Linked DNA regions of Homo sapiens: region 2 is linked to region 1. The links come from fine-mapping of genetic effects on gene expression. Tissue or cell type: lymphoblastoid cells. Region 1 holds a variant in brackets; the other region holds the start of a gene. All regions are shown on one strand. Distances are from middle to middle.

Region 1 (6,336 bases):
AAGAACTGAAGAAACTCATTGATGCTCTGATAGAGAATTTTCTTCAGCCTAGTAAGAATGGACTGATCTGGCGTTCTGTTTAGGGGTACACCAATATGTCATGACACTGTGTGGGCATATGGAACAGAGCAACCGAGAACTGCATACATTGAACCTTGTGTTAGCATTCTCTCTCTATCTCATCTGGCCGAGTATCTTTTTCCTTTTATTTTCTTTCTTTTTGGTCAACTGGCTAGACTAAACAAAGTATAAGTTTGAAATGAAATGGTCTAGAGGGAAATGATTCAAATTTTTTCATAATTCAAACAAAAGTTATTACACTAAAAGTATTATAGTAACGTATTGTCCTTCCGTTAACAGAAACATCACAATTCAAAAGTGAGTTTTCTTATTATAGTGTGATTAAGCCTAGTTCTGTATCTCGTAATTGTGTATAGCATGGTAAAAGAAAAAAAAAAAGACAGGTAAATGTTATATAATTGTAGGGTTAGTTAAGGAAATTAGTCCATAAAATTGGCAAGAAAATGGTACTTTCCTTGATTGTTATGAAAAAGTGTCATTGTGACATCACAGGTATTAATTTACAAATTAGAGTATTTGAAATAGGATATTTAGCATTTCTGTAGTTTAGAACAGATGTTACAGTGTGTGGTTTTGGCATGTCTGTTTCAGGTGCCCTTGGTGCAGTATAAATTTACTGTATGTATTTAAAATTCTGATGTTTACTGAACATAAAACAATAGTGGCAACACTCCTATTGGCTTTGTTCTTATCAAATTTCTCAGTGCCTTCTCAGGGTCTGGTGTGAACAGAAAAAACAGTGTTCCTGCATTTACCATAATTTAATCAGTCAATTTGCAGATAGCTAAGGAAAATCTTCCAAAATCTGTAGGTGCTTCCTCTATATCAAGTGAGTTTGCTGATTTTAAAATCTTAGGAATATAAATAAAGATCTTAATAAAAGCAAGCTTAATGTAGTTAAGGATCTTCATATTAGAATTGTGTCATTTATCAAACCTTTTATTACAGAAAAAAATCTGAACTGAGAAAGGAGCTCTGAATTTATTTGACAGTCTAACTTTTGAATTACATTTTTGTAAGTAGATTTATTCTTTTATTTTATGAAGTAATGTTAATTTTACTAAGAATAAAACATCCAAATTTTAAGTATTATGAAATACTAAAACTACATGTTTTAAAACAGAGGTCCAGTTTATTCTAACATCTTGCTGACTTCTGTAGAATTTCTGATTGCATGACTATTATTTATCTTCTTTTAGTGTAGAAAATAATTTTTTACAAAAAGTCACTTTTGGGCTGGGCGCAGTGGCTCACGCCTGTAATCCCAGCACTTTGGGAGGCTGAGGCAGGTGGATCACAATGTCAGGAGTTTGAGACTAGCCTGGCCAATATGGTGAAACCCTGTCTCTACTAAAAATACAAAAATTAGCCGGGTGTGGTGGTGGGCACCTGTAGTCCCAGCTACTCGGGAGGCTGAGGCAGGAGAATTGCTTGAACCTAGGAGGCTGAGATTGCAGTGAGCCGAAATCACGCCACTACACTCCAGCCTGGGCAACAGAGGGAGACTCCATCTCAAAAAAAAAAAAAGTCACTTTTGGCTAATCATGCAGTCTTCTGAAAAGGTTTAATAGAGAAATGCTGTTTAGGCTGGGCTTGGTGGCTCACATCTGTAATACCAGCGCTTTGGGAGGCTGAGGCAGGAGGATTGCTTGAGGCCAGGAGTTTAAGTTACAGAACTATGATCACACTGCCGCACTGAAGCCTGGATGACAGAGTGAGACCTTATCTCAAAAAAAAAAAAAAAAAGAGAGAGAGAGAGAAAAAGAAATGCTGTGTTTAATCTTCTTAAAATGTATCTTGTCCTACATAGTTCTCAGAATACATATGGGGTATAGTTAGGAGATAACAATAACAAGACCTAAACAAATTGCTTATGGGAGATAGCACTGTAATTAGAGAATTTATTTCATATAAAATAATAATATAAAGTTTGAACTGATTAGAATGTTCCTTAAATCATGGTTTCGTTTGTTGCAGCTGTCAGCTAACATTTGGTTGAGCTCATATAATCCAAACCTAATTGTCCAACTATTGTATTGCCACTATTGTTAATTTGTTCCTTCCTTACTTTCTTATTGTTGGATCTTATATGACTGTATGACTGTAGATAATAGACAGCTAGCTAAATGTAGAGCACCATTTTTCTCAATGAGTTTGTTTTCAAAGGCTTTGCACTGGAGAAGATATGTGTAGAATTTTTGTTTTATTTTTAAAATGTGTAAAACATCTTTTGTTTTATATGCTTTTAAGAATGTAGATTGTAATTTAGGAAATGGCATATATTCTGCAAAGTGGTATAATGTTGTATATATGAAAAACAGGTATATTTGGTTTAGTTCTGTGTTTCAGTGACTGATAAACAAAAATGAAGCTAAAATGAATCAACGGCTCATTCATAGTTACTAAAGCCATGTCATGACTGTCATTCTATTATGAAGAAAACAGTTTTATTTGAGTGCTTTAATATAATGCAACATTTAAGTCATCTTAAGGTGAAAAGTTATTGAAGTGTTCTTCTCTCAAGTTAACAAAATTTTACAAATGTTCCTGAAGTGTATCGATTGAGGGAATTATTTTATTCTAGCCTGTCATGAGTCTGTCTGAGCATGATACTTAACATGAACTTGATGTAGTAGGTGCACATTTGCCTAACAGGATAAATTCAGTGATAGCCCAAGCTGGTCAGGAGAGACAGAAGTGCTGGCTAGGAGGTCTCAGCCTCGGGCACTACAATGTTTATCTTTTTCTTTTTGAACAATATTGTGAAAATGATTGCATTCTCATTGAGCATGAAAGTCAAAACTGGAATTTTCTAAAGCTTTGGAGAAAAGGAGAGAATTAGTAGGGCAAGATCAAAGCATACATTGGAAATAAACAGTAGAAATAAGCAAACAATATAAAGAGACACGGGAAATGCTTCTCGTGAAGGGCAAATGTAACACCATAACAGTAGGGAATAAACTGTGTCCCACCTGTTTACTTGTGTTTATTTGTTGTTATGATGAGTATGCACCTACCATTTTCCTTTATTGTGATCACTAAAATGAGGCCAAGGTTTAGGAGGTGAGAAAAAGTATCCCTTTTACGGATTCAGTTCCTGCTAGGATGTTGTATCAGAATCATGTGAGAACTCAGGAAGAGGTAGAGCAGAAATAAAAAGGAAGAAAATGTAGATTAGAAAATAAGACTTCTGAGAAAAAGTTCAAGGAATAAAGATTGTTTGACTCTGGAGAGGAGAAAGCTGTTGAGATAGTTTGCTAAGTTTGCTAATAAAGCTTTATTGAGTCTTTTATTGAAGGGTTCAAAGTAAGAAATACTATGCCATAGTGTTCTCCATCTCTAGTGAAGACAGAACCAGAGGGAATAAGGATCTTTTTTTTAAAGACAGCATGGAAAGTTTAAGATTTAGGAACTTCTTGAGAAATCTTCATAATATCTTCTATTCAAAATCTTTTTTTTATTTTTAAGGGAATAAAAATTTTAAAAATTAAGAGATATACAGATGACTTTTTAAGGGTCCTTCTTTCCAGCACATTTTTTTTAAAAACTCAGGTTAGAACAAAAATGTCATAAAGGGCACTAAAAGTAACATTTGGGTTTCACTCCATATCTAGAAGAATTTAGCTCACAAAACAATTTTTGTGTGTTTTGAGTAACTGATGCATAAGTGCAATGAATAATTTTCCTGCTTCACTGTTATTTTTAATTTAACCTGG[C/A]AAATTAAGTGAGACTTGAACAAAATTTTGTTCATCTTGAAGAATGTATAGTGGCTTAGGTTATTTGAGGTTTTCGTTTTGAATATATATGTTGTTATTTTGATGTAGATACGTTAGCAGATGGAGAGGTTCTAAGAGATTGGATACTTTGGAATGTCTTTATATAGGAAATAGACCTCCCATTTCTTAAGCAAGTTGCTTCTGGAATTGATGCAACAGGGATATTAGCTGTAGTTTAATGGATAAGTTGTTCTATGAGCTGCTGCTATCAGTACTTTTTTCCACATTTTCCATTGATATTTGTGATGCTTGAAAAATCCAAACTTCACTTGGATACATTTAATTTTATGCCTTTTTCTCTCTACCTCCCACTTTTCCTAGGCACCCTTGCACATTTTGTTACTGTGAAGGACTATTGCCCTGTTACCTCACTGATAAGAAATCTCAACTGTATTCATTCAGAATGCTTTAAGCTTAGTCATAAACTACATTTGCCTATGGACCTTTGGTTATTTTGTTAATGTTGTCATTATATTTAAGACTTATTGTAGGAAGTAATTTTAAATCTATTTCATAACCTGTTTTGATCTGTCTGCATACTGCTATATGTTAATTTATTACGGCCTTTTACAATTCACTTGTCATCTGAGATTGTTCTAGAAACTGATGAGGAAAGAGTCGTACTAACCAAAATGAATGGGCAATTGACATAACATTCTATTTCAGGTTTCCTTGTACTTGGGGAGCCAAAGCACAAGATCTAAGGAAATCTTATTCACATTTGTCCCTCAGAGCATCTTACCCTAAGCCATAGAGGTATAAATAGTAAGATGAGAATTGCTCATTGTCTGACTCCTTGCACAGCATGAATTTAATTCTAGTTGGAAACAAAGTTAGTGTTGACTACTGGTTACCTTAAAGTATTCACCATACTATATATTTATTAGACCATCTTTCCTCTTTGTTTATTCAAGACTATGTACTTATAAAAGAGAACCTATAAGAATGTGTAGAGTGACCAAATAGGGACAAAGTGACATACCTAGAGTTTGCTGCTCAAATTTTTCCACTAGCGTAACCCTAAAGCAGAGGGGCATGATGAAGGGGGAAGGGGTTCTGAGAGCAAAATCAGAATCAGCCTACCACTGACATGAAGTGTGTTCTGTCTTTAAAATGTAAGTGAATTTTGCATTCTTTATAATAAAACTTTTAATATAAAAATGATATGTTTAATCTTTACTGAAACTTATGCCACCACAAAGGAGCACCATGTTCATCACGTGGCTGCTCAGTTTTCTCCCCCAGTGCCCTCACCCCCAGTGGAGGCAAGTCCTTGAGCTACACACACTGGCTGTAGTGCAAGATATATAAACATAGGCCGGGCTCGGTGGCTCATGCCTGTAATCCTAGCACTTTGGGAGGCCGAAGCAGGTGGATCATCTGAGGTCGGGAGATTGAGACTAGCCTGACCGACATGGAGAAACCCTGTGTCCACTAAAAATACAAAATTAGCCGGGTGTGGTGGCACATGCCTGTAATCCCAGCTACTCGGGAGGCTGAGGCAGGAGAATCACTTGAACCCAGGAGGTGGAGGTTGTGGTGAGCCAAGATCGCGCCGTTGCACTCCAGCCTGGGCAACAAGAGTGAAACTCCATCTCAAAAAAAAAAAAAAAAGATATATAAACATAGAACATATCCAGACTATTTCCTGCCCTTGGAATCTGACCTTCAGAAGGATTAATGCCAAACTAAACTGACCTGAAACAGTTTTGTTACTATTGGCATTCCTTGACTAAAAAGGACCACCTGATGCTCAGTCCCGAGAGTAGGAATCGTGGTTTATTATTTTTCATATCCATACCACCTAGTTCAGTACCTGTTATAGAGTGTTTAATTGCTGATACTAGGAATTAAGGGATTTTTTAAAAGTAGCAAATAGTTTAAGGAACAATCAAAAAATGAATTTTCTAATTCAGTTTTTTCAATGAAGTCCCATCACTGAACTTTATAATGTAATGTTTATTAAGCAGACATCCCCTTAAATACTCAGTTTCTTTGGAGAGAGCAAAGCATATCTCTCTGTGGAAATTATATATAATGCCTGGTATTTTACACTCAAAGCAAGGTGTTGGCCAGGAAGGTAAAGAAATGGTGTCTATGTAGACTTAATATCACTAGTCTAAGTGTCATTTTGAGCCTAGTAGCACTACCTTCCAAGTGAGTCACAACAAATTTGATCCTATTTGGTATGTTTTTGTCCACTGTTATGATTCATCATGTATCTTACAAGAGCCACTCAAGCAAGACTCTGCTTCTATGTATGGTGAGGCCTTGTTGTTCTAGGCTAGAATAAACTCTTTGTATGCCTCATTGAATATGCCAGGTAAAATTTATGCAGTCAAGAATGAATTATTTTTCTGACTAAAGTGTGTAGCAGTAGTTCAAAATTGTGCCCTTGTTTTAACAGTTTCTGTCAACATCTTCTCATTTTTCCCTACAAAAACACCAGGGTGTATTATAAGTACTGCCTGTGAGAATT
Region 2 (6,336 bases), 64 kb before region 1:
CTGGTAAGCAGTAAATGTCTGCTATGATCTTGCTGATAAAAGTGAAGGTTAGTTGACTCTTTTTTTCCATGTCTTGAAAGCTCTGTTGATTTGGTAGTGTTTCTCAGAAATGAACTGAATAAGAATTGTCTTATAAAAAACACTGTTTAACAAATTTAAATATAACTCATCATTAGATCTTGTTAAAATGTAGGTTCTGATGCAGCAGAACTGGACTGGGGTATGAAATTTTGTATTTCTTAATAAGCTTCCAGAGGACATCAGCACAGTTGTCCTCCTAATCACACTTTGAATTGTGACAGTCAATAGATATTTCAAATATGCAGGTACCTAGGCCCTATGCCAATGTATTGATTCAGAATCTCTGGAGGCAGTGTCCAGGAATATTAATTTAAACAAACTCCTAGGGAGATATGAGAACCACTGATCTATGGGTTTGAAATATCCTCTATCTTATTCTCAACTTGTTTATTTTGTTTCTGAAAGCCCAGTGCAGGTCCCTCCTGCTTGATGCTTTTTTCATTGACCACCTCAGATGTAAATTCATTAACAGTTGTTGGCAGCACTTGCTATTTATCATGGGCTTTCTTTTCTTACATATATCCTGTCTCCTCAGATGTTACTTCTCGAAGTGAACAATTATATAGATTCTTGTAGCCTCAGCTCCTACCATAATGCTTAGCAGAGAGTAAATGTTTAATATGTATCATGGATAATAATGGTGATGGTAGTGGAAGATGAATTTCTCTCCAGGACACGTGACTGTTGCCCAGGCCTTGTGTGATTAAAAGAACAAGAGTCCTGCTGACTCCACAAAAGAAACAATCGTTAGCAAAAACTGCAACTCCCAACTATGGCACGTTTTTCAGAAACTGGTACCACAATCCTTTTGTACCTTGGTAGTTTGAATTTTATTATGGTAAATGGCACTTTAAAGGAAATAAAGTAATACTTTGAACTTAATATGTCTTTTATCTGTGAACCTCAAAGCAGCCTAATGCCATTTATTAAGTTACTGTACAGCCATGATGTAAATATTATCATACCTTCCTTACAAAAAAGCTGACTAGGGAAAGAGTTGTAATGTACTTGCCCAAAATCATAGCCATTCTAAGAAGGCCAAACCAAGAAACGGAGGAGTAGCTAGGTGGCTGACAGGTCAGCACTTCTCAGCATTTCCCAGACCTCAACTTAGGTGAGCTTTCCATAGGAGAGACGGCTAAGAAGTAACGGAAGACTATTTCAATTTGGGTGAACCAATTTCCTTTTCCTCCGTATTCCCATTACCATTGCTCTTGGTATCTTGTGATGCTTATACATTCTTATATTTAGGTTAAATGCCGACCATCTTCCCTCAACAACTTCCTTATCTATTTTCCAGTAATCTTGTTCTCCCTACCTCCTAGTTTACTATAGCAGCAGAGATATTAGATTGGTACAAAAGTCATTGCCGTTTTTGCCATTACTTTTAATGCCATTATTTTTAATGGCAAAAACAGCAATTACTTTTGCACCGACCTAATAAAATAACTGCCAGCTGAGGGGATCTGAAATGAGATTGGAACCCTAGTTTGACCGCTCACGAACTCGGCCTCTTAGGAGAGGTGTCTCAGGGAGTCAGTTTCTTCTTTGTGTGTGAAACGGAAAAGGACTACGCCCCTGTACCTTACTGAGGGATTGAGGCGATAGAACGCGATTCGTAAACTGCACAGCACTAAACGGATACCACTTTGTCCCCTTACTATGTCATTCCTTGTTTAATTTAATGCCAGGGCCACACAGCGCAGCATAACTAATAGGGATAGGGCGTGTCTGTAGGGAACTACCTCGAGGTAGATCTTTTTCTTTTGAGGAAAGGGGGAACGCGGAGCTGCTGGGAGTCGTAGTCTCGGCGGCGGTCTCCGCTGAGCTCAGACAAAGGAAAGAACTACAACTCCCGTGAGGCAGTGCGCGGACAGCTCGCACTGCCCCTCCTCCCCCAACCGGCGCGTGCCCCCAAGAGAAACTGGGGGCCTGCGCGCGCGCTGGGGACCTGCAGGGCAAGCGCAAAGGCAGCTTGCTAGTGGTAGCCGTGAGAGCAGATCGAGGAAAGGAGACCCTTGGCAAATTAAAAAATAAAAAGAACCGTGCACTATTGCCTCACCACCCGGACGGGCTGTAAACCCCCACTACTTCGGAGGCGTGGGGAGCGCGCTCCCGGGCTCCAGTCTAGAACTTCGGGGACTTAAATCAGCAAGGGCGGGAAGGGGCGGGGCCTAAGGCGCGGGGCGGGGCCGTAGGCGGGGCGGGCGGCGGCGGCGGCGGCGGAGCCAGGACCCAGACATCTGGGACTGTTGTTCTCTCGCGGCGCGACCGCCTCAGTCACTTCGCCCAGAGACCCGGACCTGGTCCGCTGGGGAGCAGGCGGCCATAAACCCCCTCTCTCCCGGTTCCCTGACGCCGCGGCAGGAGCTGTTACGAACACCCTGCGGTTGGTCTCCGATGCCCTTCAGTGAGGTGGGGACGCCTGGACCCTGGTGAGCGAACCCCAAGCCACCCCCCACCCCAACTCAGTGTCTTCGCCGGCCCCCGGCCCGTACGCCTGTCTGGTCGCCATGGCTGAAAACACAGAGGGGGATCTGAACTCCAACCTGCTCCACGCCCCCTACCACACCGGGGACCCTCAGCTGGACACGGCCATCGGGCAGTGGCTCCGCTGGGATAAGGTGGGTACCTGGTCAGCCCGGCAAACGCCGTCGCCTCCCCCACACAGTCTGCTCTTTCCTGTGCCCACCCAGCGCCCCGCGGGCTGCAGAGGAGATGGCTCGGGACACCGAGCGGGGGGCAGCGGAGCAGGGCGTTGCCACCCACCTATGCGTGGGGTTGCTCCTTCGGACTGCCAGAGCCGGGCGGCAACATCTGCATCGCTTCCTTCTGCAGTGCTCTCAATTGTAACCTCCCTTCCTCTTCTTTACCCTCTTTCCTTTCAAGTGCTGTCTTCCCTCTTTCTTCAAAAAAAAAAAAAAAAAAATCATCATCATTGTAAGTTATACCCTAAACAACGATTTCCTTTCCCTTTTTCTCCCTTGACTTCCTTCTCCACATACCTGAAAGTGGTTTCTGGCACCCTTACTGGGCGTTTCTAACCGCTATCCGCTTTAGTTCTGGTCTGGTGTGTTTCCTCCTTCTGTCGCTAGGTAGTTGCTGGCCTTTTATCACTCCCTGGTATTGTCTAGTATCACCTTTTGCTGTTGGGAAAGGCAAGGCGCTTACCTCTTCTTTCTCCTGCTGGCAGCTATTTTCTGGAATTAATCTGTTCAAGGAATCGTGTTTTCCAGGTTTCATGTGGTACTCTTAATACAGGATTGTTTTTGCCTTAACCATTACTTCTCTACCAACACCTCCCCACCCACCCTCCGCCCCCACCTCCAAGTTGTGGTGGTAATTAAACCTCGTGCGGGCATTTGGGATGAATTTGTGACAATCAGAATTAAAATGCAGCTATCTTACTTGTAAAAGAGGTCCCTGGTAGCTCCAACAGAGGAAGATAATCCAAGCTTTTGCTTTGTCAAGTGCGTAAAATACCTTTGTTGAAGTAGAGAAGGCAGCACATTTAAAATGGAATTAATGACACTGAATTAAGGAATTTGTATGGTAGTATGTGACATTATGTTGTACAAATGAATTTCCTTAAGGCTTCACTTTCTGAAAGTTTTGTTTTTACTTTATTCATTCATTCATTCAGCAAAAAAATATTGAATGCTGAGTGCGTGTTTTAGGTCTTGTTAGACCCAGGAAATACTTGTGAGGAAAATAGAAAGGGTTCCTGCCCTCAACAAGCCTCAGTTAGCAGATGAGGAAGACCAACAAATAAGCAACTACAATGAGGTATTTGGTGTTAATTGGTCATATGTATATTGGACGAATAATTCTTCCTCTACAGTCTAAACTAATGCTTCTCAAACCTTAATGTGCTTATAGATCACCTGGGGATCTTGAAATACAAATTCTGATTCAGGAGGCCTGGGGTGGGGCCTTGGATTCTGCCTAAGAATGAATTTCCGGCCGGGCGCCGTGGCTCAGGCCTGTAATTCCAGCACTTTGGGAGGCCGAGGCGGGTGGATCACGAGGTCAGGAGATCGAGACCATCCTGGCTAACATGGTGAAACCCCGTCTCTACTAAAAATACAAAAAATTAGCCGGGCGCGGTGGCGGGCGCCTGTAGCCCCAGCTATTCGGGAGGCTGAGGCAGGAGAATGGCTTGAACCCGGGAGGCGGAGCTTGCAGTGAGCGGAGATCGCGCCACTGCACTCCAGCCTGGGCGACAGAGCGAGACTCCGTCTCAAAAAAAGAAAAGAAAAGAAAAAAAAAGAATGAATTTTCAGGTGATACTAATGCTGCTGGTCTGTGGACCACACTTGGAGTAGCAAGACTTTTTGTTCTCTTTAGGTGCCAGTTTTAACTGTACTTTTCCTAATGAGTCTCCTGATTGATTTTTTTTTTTTTTTTTAAACAGGGTCTCACCGTGTTGTCCAGGCTGGAGTGCAGTGGCGCGATCTCCGCTCACTGCACTCACTGCAGCCTTGAACTCCTGGGCTCAAGTGATCTTTCTGCCTTAGCCTGCCGAGTAGCTGGGACTACAGGCACATGCCACCACGCCCGGCTAATTAAAAAAAATTTTTTTTTTTTTAGAAATGGGGTCTCACTATGTTGCCCAGGCTTGTCTTGAACTCTGGGCCTCAAGGGATTCTCCCACCTCAGCCTCCCAAAGTGTTGGGATTATAGGCATGAACCACCACACCCGGCCCCTGAATTATTTTTAAAAGATTGTTTGAATGAATTTATATTTATTGATTGTCCATTCTATGCCTATACATTGTTGGGATATACTGAAATATTAAAGAAACCTGTAAAATGCACATAAAATAATAATGCTAGGGTAGTTTTGGTGGCAATTAAATGGTTTGTAGGCAGTCAGTTCTTGCAGTTCAAAAGTAGGAGTAAACGGTGGACTGAGATGCTCAAGGAAGACTTCATTAGAAGATAGGATACATAAAAAGAATGAAGAGAGGTCAGGCACGGTGGCTCACGCTTGTAATGCTAGCACCCTGGGAGGCCAAGGTGGGCAGATCACCTGAGGTCAGGAGTTCGAGACCAGCCTGGCCAACATAGTGAAACCCCGTCCCTACTAAAAATACAAAAAAAAAAAAAAAAAAAAAAAAAAAAAGCCAGGCGAGGTGTCACGTGCCTGTAGTCCCAGCTACTCAAAGGCTGAGGCCAGAGAATCACTTGAACTTGGGAGGCGGAGGTTGCAGTGAGCTGAGATCGTTCCACTGCACTCCAGCCTGGATGACAGAGTGAGACTCCATCTCAAAAATAAATAAAACAAAATAAAAATAATGAAGATAAAACTTCATTGAAAGTGGAAGATAAATTCTTAATTTGTATTTAAAGTGCCTCTGAATATAAGGCATTAGCTGAAACCTGTGAGAGATAGAAAGATGAAATAGATATGGATCATATCTTTAAAGAAAATAGAAGGGAAGGAAAAGCATAAATAATAGGGGCAAGTAATAAGTATCCTTAACAGAGGAATAGATTAAGTAATTTGTTAATTATTTAATAAATATAATAAATTTCTTCATTGATCCTCTCTTAATAGGAGAGAATACATTTAATGGAGAAATTGTATCTACTGTAGATTGATACTATAGGTAAGCTAGACTGTCTCAGGGCACTGAAATTTAGAGTGCAGAAATGTAAAATAAGATCAGACTCATGGCATTTCTTACATTATATATTGATGGCATATGTAGTCTTTTAACAGAGAAACTGATTTTAACACCTGATGAATACCTATTTAATTAAAAAAGGAACCAAATGCCACCAATTCTTCATGACTCAGATGAGGCATATAATAAGTTTTAAATTGATTAGAGGTCAATTTGCTACTTGCGTTGGTCACTAAAATTACTAATCTTAGTCTCGGTTGGTGTATTTGAAAAGTCTTTATGAAAAAATGTTATTTGTGCTTGAACTTTCAGAATTAGTTAAAATTAGACTTGCTAACATAAGGAGAACTATGACAAGCATAGAGAGAAATTTTAATGTGTGTATTAAGAACTTTTATTTCTGCTGTTGCTCAGGGTACATAGAAAATTTTGGAAGGATGTGTAAAGACCAGGTCATAGAAGGGCTTTAGTATGTCTTGAAGGGCTTAAATACACACAGGTGTGTGTGTAAATGTTAAAAAGAAAACAATGCAACAAGACAGGTGTTTATTGGGGCAGTTTGGGGTACTCCATGTAATTTCTAAGGGGTGGCTTTCTGTTGGTAAATTTACAAGTCCAGAATGTG

Direction of the effects. Alleles are on the strand shown, and positions count from the first base shown. SD is a standard deviation of normalised expression in the study named.
For the expression in lymphoblastoid cells of the gene that starts at base 2,323 in region 2, allele C in region 1 goes with a lower level than allele A (large effect, 2.0 SD a copy in GTEx).

The links. PIP is the estimated chance that this variant, and not a neighbour inherited with it, causes the effect.
Region 2: it holds the start of PGM2L1, and the variant in region 1 is fine-mapped to the expression of PGM2L1 in lymphoblastoid cells (GTEx, PIP 0.97).

What each region holds. Positions count from the first base shown.
Region 1 is chr11:74,330,399-74,336,734 of GRCh38, reverse strand. It overlaps PGM2L1 (phosphoglucomutase 2 like 1), which reads left to right. Exons shown (of 14, transcript NM_173582.6): 14 at 1-6,336. The coding sequence ends at 83. All of the region lies in intron 2 of LOC112268078 (a long non-coding RNA gene), which reads right to left. Among named protein-coding and RNA genes, the nearest start is that of P4HA3, 22 kb to the right of the region's middle. The variant C/A (reference allele first, on the strand shown) is at 3,798.
Region 2 is chr11:74,394,420-74,400,755 of GRCh38, reverse strand. PGM2L1 (phosphoglucomutase 2 like 1) reads left to right here and starts at 2,323. Exons shown (of 14, transcript NM_173582.6): 1 at 2,323-2,705. The coding sequence starts at 2,595. MIR548AL (microRNA 548al) reads right to left here and starts at 1,519; the gene lies at 1,423-1,519. RefSeq lists enhancers at 1,339-1,959, 1,859-2,228, 1,960-2,581, 3,673-4,172, 4,173-4,674.